Regions from separate parts of the Homo sapiens genome. Here region 2 is linked to region 1. A link means that fine-mapping ties the variant in region 1 to the expression of a gene that starts in the linked region. Tissue or cell type: skin. Region 1 holds a variant in brackets; the other region holds the start of a gene. All regions are shown on one strand. Distances are from middle to middle.

What was found. PIP is the estimated chance that this variant, and not a neighbour inherited with it, causes the effect. A credible set is the group of variants that fine-mapping cannot tell apart.
Region 2: it holds the start of IGFL2-AS1, and the variant in region 1 is the best candidate, but not a certain one, in a credible set for the expression of IGFL2-AS1 in skin (TwinsUK, PIP 0.57).

The regions. Positions count from the first base shown.
Region 1 is chr19:46,230,276-46,238,457 of GRCh38, forward strand. IGFL1 (IGF like family member 1) reads left to right here. Exons shown (of 4, transcript NM_198541.2): 3 at 1-242; 4 at 546-968. The coding sequence ends at 555. LOC124904728 (a long non-coding RNA gene) reads right to left here. Exons shown (of 2, transcript XR_007067273.1): 2 at 5,532-5,629. Among named protein-coding and RNA genes, the nearest start is that of IGFL1, 4.6 kb to the left of the region's middle. RefSeq lists an enhancer at 1-14. The variant A/C (reference allele first, on the strand shown) is at 3,805.
Region 2 is chr19:46,198,782-46,206,963 of GRCh38, forward strand. It overlaps IGFL2-AS1 (IGFL2 antisense RNA 1), which reads right to left and starts at 4,281. Exons shown (of 3, transcript NR_135234.1): 1 at 4,059-4,281. It also overlaps a transcript of IGFL2 not described here.

The DNA of each region.
Region 1 (8,182 bases):
GCCCCCATGACTCCTTACCTGATGCTGTGCCAGCCACACAAGAGATGTGGGGACAAGTTCTACGACCCCCTGCAGCACTGTTGCTATGATGATGCCGTCGTGCCCTTGGCCAGGACCCAGACGTGTGGAAACTGCACCTTCAGAGTCTGCTTTGAGCAGTGCTGCCCCTGGACCTTCATGGTGAAGCTGATAAACCAGAACTGCGACTCAGCCCGGACCTCGGATGACAGGCTTTGTCGCAGGTGAGTCCTGTCCCCTCCGTGGGATTGTGGGTGCAGGGTAGCTGCATGCCTGTTCTGCCCTGGGTGGAGCCCCCATTCTCCTTGTCTCCCTGTCTCTGCCCCCTGCTTCTATTCAATCCACCTCTCCCTTTCCCTACACCTGTGTCTCCATCCATTTTTATTTCCCTCTCAGAATCTCACTCTCTCTACCCCGCTGTCCTCTCCTCCTGGCTCTCCTGTCCTCATTTCTGCCCATGTTCAGTCTCGCCCCCATCTCTGGCCATCTCTGTCCCGCTCAGTGTCTCTCTCTGTCACTATCTCCAGTGTCAGCTAATGGAACATCAGGGGAACGATGACTCCTGGATTCTCCTTCCTGGGTGGGCCTGGAGAAAGAGGCTGGTGTTACCTGAGATCTGGGATGCTGAGTGGCTGTTTGGGGGCCAGAGAAACACACACTCAACTGCCCACTTCATTCTGTGACCTGTCTGAGGCCCACCCTGCAGCTGCCCTGAGGAGGCCCACAGGTCCCCTTCTAGAATTCTGGACAGCATGAGATGCGTGTGCTGATGGGGGCCCAGGGACTCTGAACCCTCCTGATGACCCCTATGGCCAACATCAACCCGGCACCACCCCAAGGCTGGCTGGGGAACCCTTCACCCTTCTGTGAGATTTTCCATCATCTCAAGTTCTCTTCTATCCAGGAGCAAAGCACAGGATCATAATAAATTTATGTACTTTATAAATGAATGCTGTAGAATTCATGAATTAGAGAGCTTGGACTGTTGAAAGGGGTCACAGAGGGTGACGTGGGGCCCCTTCTCTCTGTCACCCTGAGGCATCTGGGCCTTTCCATTTGTTCTGTTCGTGCACACACTTATTTTCTCTTTTTCCATTTATTTTTAAATTTATTATTTTGTTATTTGTGCTCGGTGACTAGGACCCTGGCCGCACCTGGGACAGGGGCCACCCTCCTACACCAGCCTCCACCACCCCATGGCTCCCTGAACCCAGTCACAACATCGGGAGCAGCCCAGGTGGGGTGGGGAGGAGGTGGGGATCGCGAGAGGGCTTCGGAGAGGCACTCCCTCTCCCACCAGTTCTGGGACAGAACAGGACCCGGCTGTTTGTTCTTGATGTACGTTAAGGAGATGCAGACAGACTGGGAAAGAACGGAGGTTCTTTCTCCAACTGGCTATGGGGAGAAGGTCAGAGTAGCTTACCAGACCAACTCAAAGCTACAAACTTCTTTTTCTAGTGCTTATATGCATTCTAAGCTCCACGCCTATGTGCGGAGTGCACCTGCAAGACAGCGTGTTTCATTCTTATCAATATCTAATCTTTAACTAGTGTCCAGGGTCTGGAAAGCTTTCTCCAGAGTCTTGGAAAGTTTCTTAATCTTAAATGGACCCCAGTATGAGGAATATGTGGAAGAATGCTATTATTATTTGATCAGATTTTAGGGTCTGAGAAAACCCAGCTGGGGTTTTAATGGGCTTGTTTTCTCATTCCCGCCCTCATCCCCAGGCACTAGTTTATCCAGTTCTATAATGTTTAAGGTATGCATTCATCAAAAATAAAGTTTAGTGGAAACTGACTCTTCTGGTCGCTAACAGAAACCTGATCTGCCACACACCCATCCCAGGCACGCGTCCCCTGGGATCGTGGAAAACCCACTGGGCAGGTCCAACGCCCAGAGATGCCACACTTAGTCTGACTTTGGGCCAAAGCTGGAGCCTGAGAGGGAGTGGGTGGGGCGGGGTGTGGAGGATGTGGGCTATGGAGGAGCCCTCGGGTTTGGAAGGAGGAAGCAAAGGCTGGCCAAGGCACCTGAAGCACATTCTTCAGGCCCTGTGCCAGGGACAAACCCTCGTGGCCAGTGCTGATGTGGAATAGATCGCAGGGAGGGGGCCACGCTGCTGCTTACCCAACCCAGAAGCAGGTTCCTTAGGGAGCGTTCAGCCCTAGGGTCTCCACCAACCTGGATTCCCCAAAGTCAAAGAAGCCACCACCTTTCTGGGTCCTGTTTCTCAGGGCCAGGGGGTCTGCACAGGGCCTGCGTCCCTGGGCCTCAGTCATCCGAGGCCAACCCAGGCTCCCGGACTGCCCGATGGCTTCCCTGGGCAGATTCTGACTCAAAGGGTTCCATCATCGCCCCACAGTTGGCAGCCTCGCCTCAGTGGCCCCAGACGGGCCCGGTGGCCAGGTGTCTGCACGTGCGGGAACTCTGGACCCGGCACATCACCATGGCAGCAATCTGGCATCACAGGGCAAATGCCCTGTCTCACAGGCCTAACCCTAGCTCAGGGCCTATCAGTGGGAGCACACCCAATGCTGGGTGAGCTCTGCCTCCCCATGCTAGGATTCTGCAGGGCGTGAGAGCTGTGCTGGCGCCTAGAAAGCGACAGACCCACCCCACCCACGGGGTGGCTGCTTCCTCATCCTCCACAGTGAGCGTCCTAAACCTTCACCCTGTCCACATGTGACTCTCCTTGCCTGCACTCCCCCCACCACCCCATGAAATGATCTCATTTGGTCATTTAAGTGGAAAACTAAAAAGTTTTAAGTGACTCCGTGAGAGCAGGAGAGAGGCGGGTCTCCCAGCTCAGACCCCGCCCTGGACGCCCCCACTGAAGCCGCACAGCAGGATGTAGGTGCCCAAGGCACCTACACGCGCCGAGAGGCCTCGCTCAGCCCCGCCCTTCTTAAACCTGGAATCCTCAGGTGTCTGGGTCCTGCCCCATACAGGCCCCCTAGACCACTGGTCCAGATCCCCAACCTTCCCCCAACACGAGGTATTGACATCAAAGCATCACCTCATCTGGCACAAGAATCTGAAACACAGACCGCACCTTACACCAATGTAGTGAATCCCTCCTTGGATCTCAGTCCAACAAGCCCAGAGTCGGGGCTCTGGGTTCCCGCCCAAATGCCACGTGTGCGCACAGAAGGCACCTGACGTCCCTTCTAAGGGACAGGAATCTCAGGCATCCCAGAATCACTAGGTCTGATTTAAATAGCGTCAAATAAATTGGAAAAGAATGAAAGTGCTATAAAGTTCGGCTGAAATTTTCAGAGGTTTTATTGGTTGTATCTGGTGGAGAGAGTGGGCAAGTCTTCTCTGAACATCCATGAGGACGAAGAACAGTCACTGAGGTGACGGTACCAAGTCACCGGCCACCTCCCAGGGATCCTCTCATCCGGTCCTCACAGCAGCGCTGCATGGTCGGACCTCATCACCCACATTCCACCAAGAGGAAGCTGAAGCCCGGGGCCTTCATCCACTCATGTCCTCCAGACCCCTGGCACCCATCCTGGGCCCCACCCCATCATCCAGGCCTTGGGCCTTCGACCTGGGGAGAGTCCCTGTCTCCTCCATGAGCCGCCCTGGGCCTGAAGAGGTATCCAATAAACAAGAAAGCAGAACACAAAGAGCTGTGATGGAGTGGATCTTATGTAGTAAGAATAAACTTATTTTGAGAAATTTCTGGGTCATGTATTTACCCACAGAAAAACAGAAGCAAACACACACACACACACACGCACACACACACACACACACACCACACAGGCTGTCACGTGTCCT[A/C]AGCACAAAGTGCCTTGAGCAAGGCCATTGCTGGCCCCACACTTATCCTGACTGTGATCTTGCTGTGATCAGCACATCCCATCAGTGTGGCAACAGGTGTGGCCAGAGTGGGAACCAGGCCTTTTCTTCAGATTTGCTCTTTGTTCCTGAATAGCCACCGTCAGAACAGACACCCTCCTAGAAGTCACTTGATTAAAAATTTCCTTTTGGATATTTAGGTTGATGTTTTATCCATCGGTTAAAGTATAAATGTATATTTATTATAAAAGTGTAATTATGGCTCTAATTAATGATTATGGTGAATTTTAATAACTATAGCTATGAAAATATTCCAATAGATAAAAACAGTGCTAAAATATACAGTTAATATAAGAGTGATTACTTTAAGATAAATCTTGTAATTTTTGATCTAATAAATCTTCATAAAATATACATGATCATGAAGCACATCAATAGAATTAATCCTAATATTTATAGCAATACTTGGCGTGCTCTCTCTCATAAAAAATAACATTAATAGTAAAAAAAAAAAAAAGAAACAAAGAAATCGGCTGGGCATGGTGGCTCATGCCTGTAATCCCAGTACTTTGGGAGGCTGAGGCAGGCAGATCACGAGGTCAGGAGATCAAGACCATTCTGGCTAACATGGTGAAACCCCGTCTCTACTAAAAATACAAAAAAGGAGCCGGGTGTGGTGGCGGGCGCCTGTAGTCCCAGCTACTCAGGAGCTGAGGCAGGAGAATGGCATGAACCCAGGAGGTGGCGCTGGTAGTGAGCTGAGATCATGCCACTGTCCTCCAGCCTGGGCAACAGAGTGAGACTCCATCTCAAAAAATAATAATAATAATAATAAAGAAATGATGAAATTTAAAAATTCTATTTAATTTTGGGTTGTTTAATTTTCATTTGGGGCATGACTATGTGAAGTAATAAATTTTGTTTGGGCATTAATATGGGATGACCTATGTCTCCCGCAAAATTCATGTGTTGAAGTCCTAACCCCAGTATCTCTGAATATAACTGTATTTGGAGATAAGGTCTTTGAAAAGGCGATTACGGTAAAATGAGGTCATATGAGCAGGACCTAATCCAAGCTGACTGGTGTCCCTATAAGAAGAGGATATTAGGGCACAGACACACACACAGAGGCCATGTGAAGACACAGGGAGGAGTTGGCCATGGATAAGCCAAGAGATAGACCCTCAGAAGAAACCATCCTGCCAACACCTTGATCTCATACTTCTGGCTTCCAGAACTGTGAGGAACTGAATTTCTCCTGTTCAAGCCACCCCTCTGGTGCCCTTGATTATGGCAGTCCTGGGGGATTAACACAGGCAGAAGGAAAATGAAGGATGCAAGAGTCAGAGAAAGGAAGAAATCAAATGTACTTTCTCCTCATACAATTTTCAAAATTTCAGTTACTTTAGGAAAACACTTTTTGGGAAATTATTCTAAACTGGGTGTTTGGCGTTTTATTCTAAACTAGGTGTTTAGTGACTAGATACTTTCTTTTCTTTCATAACACATGGTATCTGATTTTCTGGGAAACTTTCTATTTGACAAGTGTGTGATCAGGGATCTCTACATGAATTCTCCACAGAAAGACTGATCTCATGGATCTAGAATTTGCAGTGGTTCTTGTGATTAGATACCTGAAGGAAATATTGCTCTTATGTGACATTAAAGAAGAAAAATATGACACTTACGGCAAGTAAAAAGACGGCGTGTGGTTCTATACGCTTGTCTGGGGCTTTTATTGTCTGCACCCTTTGGCCTTTTTGAGTTGCCAGCTTCTCCAGGTCCTCCAGCTTCTCATGAGTTGCATCTAGGATATATGAGGCAAAAAAGAAAACTCAGGGAAACTCCCTGCTCTGCCATTTCTGTGGTCCCAAGGTCCTCCCTTCGTCTGCCTTCTTACCCTACCTTTCTGAGTCTTCTTATGCTTGTTTTATAGCTGTACTGAGCAGGAGAGATATGGAAACATATGCCTACCTCGTCTTTCTGGAAGCAGAATTCCACTCCTACTGAAGGGTTTTGGTAAGAACACATTTGCCAGATCAATAATTGCCTACCAAGGATCAAACACTGTTTTGATTTGCCCCAATAAAGATACAACATCTGGCACAGCATCTGTGGTTGGGGCACAGTCTAGCTCTGGTTTTGAAAACTTACAAATACCTGCCCTTGTCTGTGATACAGTTTGGATGTTTGTCCCCTCCAACTCTCATGTTAAAATGTGATCTCCAATGTTGGAGGTGAGGCCTGGGGAGGTGTTTTGGTCATGGGAGGAGATTCCTCACAAATGGCTTGGTGCCCTCCCCATAGTAATAAGTGAGTTCTCACCCTGTTGGTTTGTGCAAGAGCTGGTAACAAGAGTCTGACATTTCTCTTGCTCCCTGTCTTGCCATGTGACATGCCTGCTCTTCCTTTGCCTTCTGCCATAATTGTAAGCTTCCTGAGGCCCTCACTAGAAGCAGATGCAGGCACCATGCTTCCTGTATACAGCTTATAGAACCACGAGCCAATTAAATCTCTTTTCTTTATAAATTACCCAGCCTTGGTATTTCTTTCTAGCAATGCAAATGGACTAATGTAGTCGCTTTATGAGGGGTCAGAACGTGAATTGCATGAGGACATGATGATAGTGCCCATTATCCCTGAATTTTTCACATCATGCAATTCACCTTCTGGGCCCCATATAGGGGAAGTGATTCTGGAAAATGTGGTTCCCATCTCAGAAGGGAGTGGGTGTTGGGGACAAGGTGATAATAGAAAGTCTAGCACAGTCCACCCCATTCAAAGATAAGCATGTATTGACACCCATTATAGCCATTTTCAACTTCAAAATAAAGGCAGCAACAATACCATTTTCCAAGTAATGTGATGCAACTATCAGTTTTACCACCCAAAGACTTTTAATCTTCTCTAGAGAAGAGGGGTTTGAAAATGCATTGTCCATCTCCCAGATGATTAACAACCTCTCTTACTATTTCATACTGTAAATACCAAGAATCAAACAATATAAACCAATACTTGATAGAGGAGTATGAAGGCATTGAGACAAACAGCAACGGAATCAGTTAACATAGAAAATATTCACATAGGCCAGGCATGTTGGCTCATGTCTGTAATCCCAGCACTTTGGGAGGCCAAGGCAGAAGGATCGCTTGAGTCCAGGAGTTCGAGACCAACCTGGGCAACACGGTGAAACCCCATCTCTCCAAAAAATAAAAAAAGAAATTAGCCAGGCATGGTGGTACACGCCTGTAGTCCCAGCTACTCAGGGGGCTGAGGCGGGTGGATCACTTGAGCCTCGAAGGTAAAGGTTGCAGTGAGCCGAGATCACGCCTCTGCACTCCTGTCTGCATGACAGAGTGAGACCCTGTCTGAAAAAAAGAAAAAAATAAATAAAATATGTTCACCTCAAAGTGAGGAAGATTATATAAAAGTCCAACTTAGTCCTTGTTTCAGCAGCTGGCCTAGAGGCTAAAGCTGGCATTTAAAAATTTCCTCTTTCAAGCCAGACACAGTGGCACATGCTTGTAATTCCCACGACTCAGGTGGCTGAGGTAGGAGGCTCACTTGAGTTCAGGATTTCAAGACCAGCCTGGGCAACATAGCAAAACTCCACCCGAAAAAAAAATGTTTTTCACTCCATTCTATAATCTCTTTGCTCTCAGCAACCACCTCATCTGATTGTGATTTTTTTTTTTTGTTTTTTAATGACTATATTGTCTTCTCTTCATCCTTACATGAATCACCCTCTCCCTCTCTCCCCGAAAAAATCAATCATTCCATTGTTAGAATGCAGTTTAGGGTCTATAAACTCCAAACTCAGTACATAATTAAAATTTATATTTGCACTTTGGGAGGCCGAGGTGGGCGGATCACGAGGTCATGAGATCGAGACCATCTTGGCCAACATGGTGAAACCCCATCTCTACTAAAAATACAAAAATTAGCTGGGCATGGTGGCACGTGCCTGTAGTCCCAGCTATTCGGGAGGCTGAGGCAGGAGAATCGCTTGAACCTGGGAGGCGGAGGTTGCAGTGAGCCGAGATCGAGCCACTGCTCTCCAGCCTGGGTGACAGAGCGAGACTCCATCTCAAAAAAAAAAAAATGTATATTCATTGGGACCTTGAACTCAGTCTTCAAGTTTTACATGCAGTACCATTAGTTTAAGTTCAGTTGATTCACTGTCTTTCTGTCTCCTTCCACAAACCAACCTCTTGCATCAGATGTTCTCCTTAACTTGCTTAGAGTGCTGCCATTTTTTGAATTTTTTTCCACTTTATCACCTGAAACCTCATTTCCATCTTAAGTAGGCCTCCCATGCATTGTCTAAGTATCTCCCTAGTAATTCCCAACATTTTCTTGT
Region 2 (8,182 bases), 31 kb before region 1:
GAGGTGTTTAGGCTGGAGAGCTTCCGTCCCTCCTGTACACACATGCAATGCCACCCCATCCCTGCCTATCCCCTGGGAGGGGCTCCTTGAGGCCAGATGGAACTAACACCACAAAGATGCCAGGTGGAAGAGTCATTCTATTTATTCCTGGACAAAAGAGCAAGTGAAGAGAGAGCCTTTGAGAGTGGGAAATGTCAAGGCCCCCACGGTTTCACATTCCAGGAGCCCAGCTCTGCCAGCCCCACCGAGGAACCCTGGGAATGTCAGATTTGGGTCTCATCCAGGGATATCTGTGACCAAGGCCTGCCTCCCCTTCCCAGAGGGGCTGGGCCAGCAGAGGCAGGGTAGGGCAGCAGTTGGAGGCCTGTGGACTGGAGTTCAGGAGACCTGGGCTCTGGTCCAGCCTGTGTCTGTGACCAGCAGTGGGTCCTCGGACCGTGTCTTGCTTGGATTAGAAAGTGAGATGGGAGAATTAAACAAATGTCTGTCTGAGGTCAGGATCTTGCCCTTACTTGTCAGAAAAACAACCTCCTTTCACCGTGGGTAGAGGTAGAGTTCCAACCCCTGAGGATCAGTTCCACCAAGGCAGAGCTGGGCTCCAGTGCCGAAGACAGACCTGTCCCCAGACAATGGATTGGATAGGGTTGGGGACTCCACGGGGCTGGCGGAGGCATTGGACAGCTCTGTGTGCAAAGGCTTTTTTGACACCTGGAGAAGGGGCAGAGACAGGAGCACTGGACTAGCCCTGGCCACCCTCCCCGCTTCCCAGCCTCTGAGAGCCCCCTGCGCTGTCATGATCTCCCTCCACTGTCTCACCCCAGGCCTGACTCAGCCACCCTGAGAGATCAGGCTCAGGCCAAGGAGGGTCAGCTAGACTCCTCTCTCCTCGGGACACAATCCTAATCCTGACCCAAGAAACCTGCTTTCTCCCACCAGCGTCTAGGCCTCTACCTGCCTCGAGCCATCCCAGGAAATGCCTGGAACCATGGTTTGAGAGATGAAGCCCGTTATTGGGAGATGTGTTGGGACATCTAAGTCAGCAGCACTTAGGCAAGAAGGAAGCCAGGCCATGCCTGCACCCTTCTTCATTCCTTTTTAAATTTTTTTTTTAATTGAGACGGAGTCTCGCTCTGTAGCCAGGCTGGAGTGCAGTGGCACGATCTCGGCTCACTGCAACCTCTGACTCCCTGGTTCAAGCGATTCTCCTGCCTCAGCCTCCCGAGTAGCTGGGATTACAAGCACACGCCACCACGCCTGGCTAATTTTTGTATTTTTAGTAGAGATGGGGTTTCACCATCCTGACCTTGTGATCTGTCCACCTCGGCCTCCCAAAGTGCTGGGATTACAGGTGTGAGCCACCGCACCTGCCCTAATTTTTTTTAATTTTTATTTTATTTTATTTTTTGAGACAAGATCTCGTTCTGTCACCCAGGCTGCAGTGCAGTGGTGTGATCTCAGCTCACTGAAACTTCCACTTCTCAGGCTCAGGAAATTCTCCTGCCTCAGCCCCTGAGTAGCTGGGTCTACAGGCCCATGACATTATGCCCGGCTAATTCTAATTTCTGTATTTTTTGTAGATATGGGGTTTTGTCATGTTACCCAGGCTGGTCTTGAACTCCTGAGCTTAGGTGACCCACCTGAGTTGGCCTGTCAAAGTGCTGGGATTACAGGTGTGAGCCACCACACCTGGCCCTTTTCTTTTCTTTTCTTTTCTTTTCTTTTCTTTTCTCTTTTCTTTTCTTTTCTTTCTTTCGTTCAGGGTCTCACTCTGTTGCCCAGGCTGGAGTGCAGTGGTCTTATCATGACTAATTTCAACCTGGAACTCTTGAGCTCAAGCGTTCCTCCTGCTACAGCCTCCCAAATAGCTGAGACCACAGGTGTGTGCCACCATGCCCAGCTTTTAAAAAAAAAAAAACTTTTGTAAAGACTGGATTTTGCCATGTTGCCCAGGTTGGTCTTGAACTCCTGGCCTCAAGCAATTCTTCCTCATCAGCCTCCCTAAGTGCTGAGATTACAGGCAGGAGCCACCATACCTGACCACTTCATTCTTGTTGGTTTTGCTTCGCTGGAAAAAATATAAATTCTCCCTCAATATGTGACTTACCACAGTCATGAAGGAAGATTTCACTATAAGGCAGTTCATAAAAATCTGTGCAGTGTACACTAACCCATTTTTGTGTCTGTTTCTTGAATTAAAAAAATAATATCTATGACATACTCAAGCAGTTATACCACCCAATAAAATGTTGCCACCCTTAGTATGGAGGACACTACTCTTTCCTGAACTGCAAATGGAGAAGCCAGGGGAGCAGAGAGCAATGGAGAAGGAGAACACGCTGTCCCCTCTCCACAAGGGAGGAGGAAGACTGCAGGCCCCTCGTGATTGCACCATTACCCAGCTCCAGACTCAACCCTCCTCTCCACCCTCCTCACAAGAGAGATACAGGGATGTTCTACAACCATAAATCTGGTCACTTCCATCCCCTGCTTAGGCCTGGGCCATGGTCAGTGCCCTCAGGATAGACTGGAGTTCTCCAAGGGCCCATAAAAATGCCCCAGCCTTGCTGCCCACTCCAGTCTCCTCTTCCTGCCTTGCATTCTGGCCTCTGGGTTCAGCTTTGTCGAAACAGGCACAGTTCTCATTCATTCTTGAAATAGTAGCTCAAATGTCTTCTTCTCCTAGAAGACATCGCTGGCCTTCCAGGCTGGGTGAGGCAACCACTGTGGGCTCCCAAGCCTTTACGCGTCCCCAACCCAGCCCTGACTCTCTGAGTCATCAAGGCCTGAGGACAATCTGTGTTCCCAGTGATGGCACATGGCCCGCTATTATGTCTCTGCTGTGTCCTCTGCAGCACGTCGGGGTAAGGATGATTAGGTTTTAATGGGATAGTAACGGGCGTGTGATTGGTTGCCAGGGAGGGAGTAAAAGTGTCCCATACTTGTGGGTTAAGGTTGGGGGATACAAGAGGAAGACGTGAAGGAGGCTTTAGGTTGGGGAGAAGGGCGGCACTGAGATGTGGCTGTAGTCCAGGAATAGTCAGGGTAGTGGATAATTTTGTTAAGATGTAAAGGATCATTAACCTTGACTCTGCCTTCAGCTCCAGCCACCTCTCTAAGAGGAAATTGTTGGGCAGGTTGGGGAGGGCTAGTCACGGAACAAAACTGTAAGCTGGACCGGTTGTGAGTGGGGGAGGCGATAGAAGGATTATAGGGTGGGAGAGTGGAAGCTGAGGAAGAACTGGGACCTCGCTTGGCCTGGTGAGGAGCAGTGTGGGGAGGAGGGGAGAGGTCGGATGAGTTCACAGAAAAAGAAGATTTAAAGGACTCAGAGCTTGGGGTGGAGACTGAAGGAACAGACAGGAGAGAAAGAAGAAAGATCTGGAATGAGTCACATTGGGAGCAGAGACTAGGGAGGAACTGATGTGTAAAAGGATGCCTGGACATCAGGCACCTCAGACCATTTGCCCATTTTTTGACAAAATTATCTAGATCTTGTAGGATGGGGAAATCGAAAGTGCCATTTTCTGGCCATTTAGAACAATTGTTAAGTTTGTATTGGGGTCAAATGCTGTTGCAGAAGAAAATAAGATGCTTAGGTTTTGGGTCAGGTGAGAGTTGAAGAGGTTTTAAGTTTTTTAGAACACAGGCTAAGGGAGAAGAAGGAGGAATGGAGGGTGGAAGGTTGCCCATAGTAAAAAGGTAAGTTTAGAGAAAAGAGAGGGTAGAGACATGGAGAGGGGGGTTGGTACTTGCCATCCAGGGGAGGTGGTACTTGCCACCAAGGTGAAGGATCAAGGCAGGCGTCCCTGCAGTGGTCAGACACCTCTGGAATGTGGGTGAATAATCAGACATGCATCCCCACAGTGATTAGACACCAAGGGAAGACTGTCTTCCCGAGTCTGTGACCAGCAGCAGAATTTTGAGTTCATGGACAAAACGTGTCTCCTCTGTCTCTACCAGAAACGGAAAGGAACCAAAATTAAGGGAGGGAGAGATTAAAGAGTGGAGGGATATCTAGCAAGAGAGGTTGGAGAAGAGAATGAAAAGAGGCTACTTACCCGATTTAAAATTGGTGAGAAGTTCCTTCGGCTGGGCTGAGGACCCGAGGTCATGGGTGGATCTCATGGAGAGAGGGCGAGGACAGGGGACCGGTCTCCCAAAGGAGTCCTCCTGTCTCAGGTCTTCGGCACCAAATGTCACATGAGTCCATATGAAGAGAGTCCACCAACAGGCTTTGTGTGAGCAACAAGACTGTTTATTTTACTTGGGTGCAACTGGGCTGAATCTGAAAAGAGAGTCAGCAAAGGGAGATAGGGGTACAGCAGTTTTATAGGATTTGGGTAGGTAGTGGAAAATTACAGTTAAAGGTGGTTATCTCTTGTGGGCAGGGATGGGGATCACAAGGTGCAGGGTGGGGAGATCATGAGACTCATTGTCTAGGGGAGGAATGTCACAAGGTTGATGGATTAGTTGGGGTGGGGCAGGAGCAAATCACAATGATGGAATGTCATCTTTTGTGGTTCTTCAGTTGCTCCAGGCCCTCTAGATGTATACGTGCAGGTCACAGGGGTTATGATGGCTTAGCTTGGGCTCAGAGGCCTGACACCAGAGAGTTGGCCAACACCCCGGTACAGTTGGCCAGCTGCACTAGAGCTGCTTTGTTCTCCTGATTTGAATTTCAGTGGTTTCTTACAGTTTTTGCTGCTGCTGTAGAGCATTTAAGCAGGAAGGGATCCAGTTCAGCCATCCAGGGACTGGCACCCAAGTTCTTGTTGCAGGTAGCAGGGACCAGCTTGCAAGCTTGAAGTGTGCAGATGGAACACAGAGCACTCCAGCCACCCAGGCAGATATCAGAGGATGGGCCCTCAGGCACTGGTGAGGCCCAGTCCTCTCCCTCAGTGACATCTGCATTCCTAGCATTCTGGGTTTTTTTGTTTTTGTTTTTGTTTTTGTTTGAGAGAGTCTCACTCTGTTGCCCAGGCTGGAGTGCAGTGGTGCAATCTCGACTCACTGTAACCTCTGCCTTCCAGGTTCAAGCAATTCTGCTATCTCAGCCTCCCGAGTAGCTGGGATTACAGGTGCATGCCACCACACCCAGCTAATTTTTGTATTTTTAGTAGAGACAGGGTTTCACTTTGTTGGTCAGGCTGGTCTCAAACTCCTGACCTCAGGTGATCCACCCGTCTCGGCCTCCCAAAGTGCTAGGATTACAGGCATGAGTCTCCGATCCCAGCCCTAACATTATTTTTGAACATCTGAAATTTCACCAGATTCCTGTCTGTCACCTGGGAGAGGCTCCCTGAGGCCAGGTGGAAATCATACCCGGATGCCACCAGAATGATGATTCAGCCCTTTCCGTGCTTGTTCCAGAGGGGAAGCCCATGAAAGGAGGACAGCCAGTGCTCTCCTGTGTGCCACGTTCCAGAAGCTCAGGTCTCCCACCAGCAGCTGGGGTTGTGGGAAAGTCTTCCCTGAGGCCAGCCCCCGGGTGCCTGGGATCAGGGCCTGCTTGCCTTTCTGGACGAGCTGGGCCTGGGACTGGGGGGGGTTGCTGGGCTGAGACAGGGGTACCTGGGTCCAGTCTAGATGGTGTCTGTGACCTGCAGGGGCCCCTCATGCCAGGGTGCTCTTTACATAGAGGGAATAGGGTGAGAAAATATGACCAACAGATGTTGGAGTTTACTGTTATTTCCCAGGAAGCCATGAGAATCCTGTGACCCTGGAAAGAGACAGGGTTCCCAATAACTAGGGACATGGCAGTGAGTGATGCAGCCCTGCTCCCTGTCCTCAAACAGCTCTAGGTCCACTGTCCCTAAACAGTGACAACACAGAGTGGGCAGCTTTGGGATGTGGAATGCACAGGCGGCTGCTTCGGGAATTTTGATATGGGGTTTTAGCAGCTCCTGCTGCTTGCTGGGAAAAATCCCTCAGGGAATTGTAATGGACTTCAGGAGAAATGACACACAGGTGCTCGTGTATATGAAATAAGTTGTTGTTTTGTTTTTTGTTTGTTTTTGAGACAGTCTCACTCTGTCGCGCAGGCTGGAGTGCAGTGGCACGATCTCGGCTCACTGCAACCTCTGCCTCCCGGATTCAAGCGCTTCTCCTGCCTCAGCCTCCCAAGTAGCTGGGATTACAGGTACCTGCCACCACACTCAGGTATTTTTTTTTTTTTTTGTAGTTTTAGTATAGACGGGATTTTGCCATGTTGGCCATGCTGTTCTCAAACTCCTGACCTCAGGTGATCCACCTGCCTTGGCCTCCCAAAGTGCTGGGATTACAGGCGTGAGCCACCGTGCCCAGCATGAAATAAATTTTATAACCTGAATAGGACCCGGTAATATAGGAGTTAAGAAGAAATTATTTTAGGCAGATAGTGAAGGTAAGAAAGTCCTTGGTAAGGTTTTTCTTTTAATGAAAAGCACCCTCCAAATCATATACTTTTCCAACAAACAGCAGCCATTAAAATCAAGCCACAGACATAGAAAGGCAGGCTAGAAGCTTCCACAGGTGAATGCCAGCATTTGTGCCAATAGGAAAAGGCTACCTGGGACTAGGCATTTTCAAAATGGCAGCTCCATCTTCCCTTTTCCTTTCCAACCACATGCACAGTAGAAAGCAGATAACATGGCATCCACCAAGTGGAAAGTCCATTTGCATAATAAGATTAGGGTGGGGTGGTCAGCTTCTTCCAGCACTATGTAAATGTCACAGCTGATCCAACCAATCTGTGGGCCCTATGGAAATCAGATACCACCTCTTCAAACCCGTCTATAAAATCCAGTGCACTCTGCTGTAGGCTGGAAGTCCCATTCAGGTGCTGAGAGAGAGAGAGAGAGCTGTTCTTCTTTCTCTCTCTTTTGCCTATTAAACCCCTGCTCCTAAACCCACTTCTTGTGTCCATGTACTCGATTTTCTTGGTTTGAGACAATGAACCTTGTGTATTTACCCCAGATGATGACGCCACATTACCAGTGTCAGCACTCCCCAAGAAGAAGGATTGAGGCTTGGTCCAGTGTGAAGCAAGTGGGCCGTTAAACACGTGGCTTTGGCTAGTTTTTGAGCATGGGGCTATGGTGAGGGTTGCTGCCTGTGGGCTGGGGCTTGAGTGGTTTGAACGTCCTTCTGCTGCCAAGACAGAAAGCACATGGTGTGCCCAGATGTGCATTGGAGGTGACTGAGGAAGGGCTGGGAAGCTGACAATATCCAAAAATCTAATGTTGTTGTCATACAGGGAGATAAACAGGGCTACTAGAAAATAGCTTATCTGACCCTTTGAGAAAATGTAGAGAGAAGAGTCCAACCCAGGGCTGTTTGACCACAAAGTCTCAGGATTGCTGAGAGAGGGACTCTTGCATCCACAGAGCCCTGGCCCTGCCCCACTGCCCTCCCTCGAACCCAGCTTCTGACACCCCCTGCCCCGTCATCATCACCCACTGCTGTTTTCTCTACCCAGCCTGACTCAGCTGCCCTGACAGATGGGGACCAAGGCCAAGGAGGGCCAGCTGGGCTCCTCTCTTCCAAGAGATGGCAACTCCAGCCCTGCCCTCAGGAATGTGCTTTTCTCCCTGGCACTGGCTGCTCTCCAGGCCTAAATTCAACCCTGTTTTTAGCACAGAAAACCAGGCCAAATGCCACACCCAGTCTCAGCATACGAAGCACCTAGAACTGACACTGTGAGCTCTGAACTCTTTGTGTGTGTGGGGCGGGGTGAGGGGGAGCAACATGCCCGGACAGGTAGTCAGTGATTTTTAAGAAAGATGGAGGCGAGCTTATACCCAGAGGATTTTTCCTTCCAGTGTTTAGTAACTGTTTGGCTGTGACTTGCTAGGAAGCACTCATATTACATCAGTCCAAAAGAAAGTTTAATTGAACACTGATGAATAAGACACTGTGCCATGCACACTCTTCTATTTCTTTTGATTCTAGTTGAATGTATAAGATACCCATGTTGATGAATAAATTGATTCACAACCTGAGAGTGTCACAATCCCCATGTTGGAGATCACTGCTCTACCCTGCAGCTTCAGGAGAGGGGAGGCCAGAAGGCAGAATGAGAAATGGGGTCGGGGGTGTGAGTGCTTATCTCATCCACCCATGACAGCGAGTGGGCCTGCAGGACTCTGGAAATTGCATGAGAATTTCTGCTCCATCAGCTTCCTGCCTGGTCTCATGCTCCCAT